2 separate regions of the Homo sapiens genome follow, and region 2 is linked to region 1. The links come from fine-mapping of genetic effects on gene expression. A gene starts in region 1. The other region holds a variant in brackets. All regions are shown on one strand. Distances are between the middles of the regions.

Region 1 (2,914 bases):
CTGTTCATGGCCTTTTTCTTCTTCTCTAGGGGTTCCCCCCTTTGAAGAAACAGCATCTGCTCAACCTCCCCTACAGGCTCCCTTAAAGCTGGTTTCTCCTCCCTCTGTTTGTCTCTTTGCAACTCTCTGGAGGCATCTTTACCTTTACAACTTTGCATTTTCTCTGCTATTCCCATGTAAGTTCCCTGAAACCCTAGTACCATTCACAGCAGGATTTCAAAGGTTGCCTGTTGCGTGAGCATTCTATAGGATCCCAAATTATCTTTCTGTGCAAATATGAATTGTTGTGATATGTCCGTAGAGACGGCACAACCTCATGGCTAAGAATGATAGTTACCAGTTCTAGAGATCCTACTCTAATTGCTCTAGAGTGGGGGCCTGAACACCAGTATTACAAAAAAGACAAAAGAAAAAGAAGGAAAAAAGAAAAAAGAAAGAGAGAAAATCAAAGCTACCTTCATCATGTATGAATTTGAGCAAGTAACACCTTTGTGAGTCCCCAGGCCCCAGTTTCTCATTGGTAAAATGAGGATAACAATTACACAGACCTTGTTGGGCTATGTACAGAATTAAATGAGATTATGTACCTAAAAGGCTTGTGGCACAGTGACACACACACACACACACACACACACACACACACCCAGAGTACTTCGTGGTTATTTCTAGGCTTTACTGCTTGAAAGGCTGAAAAGATGGGTGGATGAGAGGTGCCCTGAGGTTCCTTCCAACTCTCCAAGATTCTGTGATACTCCTCCTTGGGTGCTGAAGACACTTTGGCAATGTTTGGATTTCCAAACGGTTGCTTAGAAAACTAAGGGACCCACGAAGCCCAGGTAAGCCTCAGGGTCTTTCCCAGGAATCGTTTATTTATTTGATCTTAGTTCTGACCTAGAGCCTCCACCTTCTCCATCCAAATCACCACAGTGGTCGAAAAGGGCCTGTGCTTGGGAAATCCTTCCTTTGTTGGCGAATCTTGGACCCAAACCCTGCATTTGGGCATCTGACACCCATAGGCCCATGGTTCAAACCCAGGCGGCTCTTTCCAAGTTCGAAGCAGGGACTCGGTTCTGCGCATCTGGCGGGTGTGCCCAGATTGTAACCTTCGCACTAGGCATCCAAGAACGTGCTTTGGACACACTCGGCGGTGGGAGCGGGTGCTTGGTTTGCATCAGGGATGAGGGGTGGAGTAGCGAAAGCGCCCGGAGCGCGCACTCACTCACACTCCCCAAGCCAGGGCGCGGCCGCTCTGGGCGCGAGGTCCCAAGCCAAGTCTCGCGCTCGGCCAGGAGCCGGGGAGTACCCCAGGTCCCCGGTCTGGGGCCGCCGCTATCCTACCCTGCGGCGCGCACTCCTGACCTGGCCCCGCCCCCCGGCGGCCGCGAGTAGCGGGCGGAGCGCAAGCAGAGAGGCGCTCTGGGCTGTGCGGCACCGCCTCTCCTCGGTGTCTGGGGAGGGACGGAGGGACCGGGCGGGAGAGAGAGAAAGCCTGACCGACCGGCTGGCGAAGAGCTGCATGCAACCGGTGGGAGGCCGGGCCGGCTGGGTCTGGGGCTCGGGCTCAGGCTCGCACCGTTTCTCGGCAGGTCCCTGGCGGTGAGCGCGGACGGCCCGGAGGCGGCGGCTCTGAGCTGGCAGGCGGAGGGCTGTCTCCTGCGCCCGCCTGCCCGGCGCGGTCCGAGGATGCGGGGGGGCGATGCCCGGGGCCAGGGACGCGCTCTGTCACCAGGCGCTGCAGCTGCTGGCCGAGCTCTGTGCCCGTGGGGCCCTGGAGCACGACAGCTGCCAGGATTTCATTTACCACCTGCGGGACCGTGCCAGACCCCGGCTCCGCGACCCAGGTGAGTGCCGCCACCGCCGCCTGGAGGGACCTAAGGGCCCTGGGCTGGGACTTGGGGCCGCACCGGGGCCTGAGGCAGAACAGCGACGCGGACTGGGAGAGGGCGGGGGGCGGCCACCGAGCCAGGAGAGTGATCAAGAACCAGCGCACTGTGGCCTGATGCTGTAACCAGGCGGGGACCCGGGCGGTGGCTACTGCACGGAGGCCGACTCCGGGTCGGCTAGGGCAGGGTTGGAGGGACCACGCCCGCCACCTGCGCTCCCATCGCCAAGGCTCCTGGGGGCGGCTCCCTAGCTCCGAGCTACGCTCTCCACTTCCCGGGCTATCTGCACTCAGAGCGAGGGGAGGCCGCGGCGGCCTCGGAGCCGTGGGAAGGGGGACGAGGCCGAAGGAAACTCTGGGAAGTTGGGAGTTGGGGACGGCCCCGGGTTGGGGCCGAATCCCACCGGGTGCTGCTCATCCTTTCTCCCAAGCGTCTAGTTCCTTTCCTTGGTATGGGGTGAGAAGGGCGGGACGCGATCCGGCGTTGGGCCGGGGACAGGGTGCTTCTGGCCTTGGGCAGACGGGCCTGAACCCGTTCCCGGCGGGTCGCACGGCATGGAGGTGGCCTGGGCCTGGGCGCTAGGCTCGACCAGCGACTACCGCCGGCCACGATGGGGTTCGTAGACTCGTCGGTCCTGGCTTGTGCACCTGTAGTTACTCCTAGTGAAAGTTGCAAAGCTCTTAACTTTGGAAAGTTCATTTATTTTGGCATTTGACCAATTAAGGTTGGAGGAGGGAGTTTTAGTGGAGCCATTTGCTTTTCCTGAGGTCCCTGGGTCTCCCAGGTCGTCTCATCCGTTACTGGCTACTGGAAAATGCATTCCTTCCAATGTTTGCTTGAGATGTTTCTCACCTGGAGAAATAGTTTTCTCGAATATTCTCCCAACCTAAGTACTTACCAAAACAGCATATTGTGGTTGGATTGTTAAAAATGGGATGAGAAAATGGCCTTTCTCTTGATATTGCTATGTATAAATATTGGAAATGAGCTATTGCCTTGCAAATTATGATGTACGAATTGAAAACAATTTA
Region 2 (2,914 bases), 120 kb after region 1:
TGTTTTTTGAGATTAGATCTCACATGTCACCCAGGCTGAAGTGCAGTGGCACAATCTCAGCTTGCTGTAACCTCCACATCCCAGGCTTAAGTGATCCTCCTATCTCAGCCTCCAGAGTAGCTGGAACTACAGTCATGCACCACAATCCTTAGCTAATTTTAAAATTTTTTATGAAGATGAGGTCTCATTACATTGCCCAGGCAGGTGATTTCTTAAAATTCTTTTGTAGAGGGGGGAATCTCTCTATGTTGCCCAGACTGGTCTTGAATTCTTGGCTTCAAGCACTCCTTTTTTCCCCATTTTTAGTTGTGTTGTTTATCTTTGGATTTGTGATTTGTAGGAATTCTTTATTTTTATATACTTATTCTTAGCCACTGGTCTCATTAGTTTCAATAGTTCTTCACTTGGTTATATTGGATTTCCAGCTAAGCAATTATATGCTCTTTGAAAAATTATATATTTGCTTCTCTTTTGCTGTAATTTTACCTTTTACGTGTTTTATTATTTTATGGCATAAGCTGGAACCTCCCAAACTGTTGAGTAATTGTGGTGACAGCCGATACTGATCCTGAATATAATGATAATGTTATTAGTGTTACAGTATTAGGTTTTATATTTATTTTTATTAGGAATGGATGCTAAATATTCCCCAATATTTTTCTATTGAGATGTTTGCATAATTTTTCTCCTTCAGTTCATTAATATGATTTATTATATTCCTAGTTTACTAATTTTGAAATATCCATGCCTCTGGGATAAATCCTACTTGGCCGACGTGTATTCTTAATACTGATAGATTTTATTCATTAATACATTATATAGTATTTTAAAATTATATTCACATAAGAATTGACCTATAGTTTTGTTTGCATCCTTTGTTGTTATTGTTTTGATGGATATGCTTCCTTGTTTTGTGCATCTTTGTCTGATACTGGTTTCAGGGTTATACTAAACTTAATAGAAGAGTTGGAGCATTGTTATTATTTTCTCCTCTGGAATGTATTTTTTAATACATCAGCTACACGTGTTATTTTATCATTCCCATTCCCCTATTTCACCCTTGAGAGATTTTTCCCTACCTCACCTCTCCTCTTCCTATATTGTTATACTGGCATATGTCGAGCTCTGGAGGTTCCTAAGGCTCCCTGTTTTACCTGCTCTGGAAACTGCTCTTGGTTCCCCTGCTGCCAAGCATAGGCTTTGTCTC[T/C]GTTCCAGAGGCCCTGAGTTGTTCAGATTTGTATTTTATTTTGGAATAAGCCCTCATGAACTAAGCTGCAGGGTGTACCTAGGGCAGCAATAAACACAGTTCTACTGGCCCTGAGCCATGTAATAGGTTGAACATATGAAACTCCCCATATCCCACCAGTTTCAACCTACAAAAATGGCAGTTTCACATAACTCAGAATAATGCCTGGACTCCCTCCTCCAGATGTTTGGAAGCACCTGGAGGGTGGGAAAGCCTTAAATTTTCTCTGTTAGAGACCTTGGAAGGAGATGCCTGCAATTGTTGTAATTGGGACACTTCGTTTGGGGGAAAGGCTTCCTGATGAACATGTCCAACATTCTTTTTACATTTTTCTAGATTGTCCTAGAGAGTTCTTTTATTATTATTATTATACTTTAAGTTTTGGGGTACATGTGCAGAACATGCAGGTTTGTTACATAGGTATACATTTGCCATGGTGGTTTCCTGCACCCATCAACCCATCATCTACATTAGGTATTTCTCCCAATGCTATCCCTCCCCTTGCTCCACACCCCCAACAGGCCCTGGTGTGTGATGTTCCCCTCCCTGTGCCCATATGTTCTCATTGTTCAACTCCCACTTATGAGTGAGAATATGCCGTGTTTGGTTTTCTGTTCCTTTGTTAGTTTGCTGAGAATGATGGTTTCCAGCTTCATCCCTGTCCCTGCAAAGGACATGAACTCATTCTTTTTTATGGATATGTGACATTCCATGGTGTATATGTGCCACATTTTCTTTATTCAGTCTATCATTATGGGCATTTGGTTGTTTCCAAGTCTTTGCTATTGTGGATAGTGCTGCAACAAACATACGTGTGCATGTGTCTTTCTAGTAGAATGATTTATAATCCACTGGGTATATACCCAGTAATGGGATTTAAAGATCAAATGGTATTTCTAGTTCTAGATCCTTGAGGAATTGCCACACTGTCTTCCACAATGGTTGAACTAATTTACATTCCCACCAACAGAGTAAAAGCGTTCCTATTTCTCCACATCCTCTCCACCATCTGTTGCTTCCTGACTTTTTAATGATTGCCATTCTAACTGGCACAAGATGGTATCTCATTGTGGTTTTGATTTTCTTTTCTCGAATGACCAATGATGATGCGCTTTTTGCCATATGTTTCTTGGCCACATAAATGTCTTCTTTTGAGAAGTGTCTGTTCATATCCTTCACCCACTTTTCGATGGGGTTGATTGTTTTTTTCTTGTAAATTTGTTTAAGTTCCTTGTAGATTCTGGATATTAGCCCTTTGTCAGATGGATAGATTGCAAAAATTTTCTCCCATTCTGTAGGTTGCCTGTTCACTCTGATGATAGTTTCTTTCCCTGTGCAGAATCTCTTTAGTTTAATTAGATTTGATTTGTCAAGTTTAGCTTTTGTTGCCATTGCTTTCGGTGTTTTAGTCATGAAGTCTTTGCCCATGCCTATGTCCTGAATTATTGCCTAGGTTTCCTTTTAGGGTTTTTATGGTTTTAGGTCTTACGTTTAAGTCTTTAATCCATCTTGAGTTAATTTTTGTATAAGGTGTAAGGAAGGGGTCCAGTCTCAGTTTTCTGCATATGGCTAGCCAGTTTTGCCAACACCATTTATTAAATAGGGAATCCTTTCCCCATTACTTGCTTTTGTCAGATTTGTCAAAGATCAGATGGTTGTAGATGTGTG

Which allele goes with the higher level. Positions count from the first base shown, and alleles are read on the strand shown. Sizes are in standard deviations (SD) of each study's normalised expression.
For the expression in cerebellar hemisphere of the gene that starts at base 1,414 in region 1, T is the low allele of the variant in region 2 and C is the other (small effect, 0.19 SD a copy in GTEx).

The links.
Region 2: its variant is fine-mapped to the expression of SYT9 in cerebellar hemisphere (GTEx, PIP above 0.99). The same link has a PIP of 0.9 or more in cerebellum.

The regions. Positions count from the first base shown.
Region 1 is chr11:7,250,491-7,253,404 of GRCh38, forward strand. SYT9 (synaptotagmin 9) reads left to right here and starts at 1,414. Exons shown (of 7, transcript NM_175733.4): 1 at 1,414-1,841. The coding sequence starts at 1,697. RefSeq lists a silencer at 1,307-1,446.
Region 2 is chr11:7,372,324-7,375,237 of GRCh38, forward strand. The region is part of intron 3 of SYT9 (synaptotagmin 9); the gene reads left to right. Among named protein-coding and RNA genes, the nearest start is that of SYT9-AS1, 92 kb to the right of the region's middle. The variant T/C (reference allele first, on the strand shown) is at 1,208.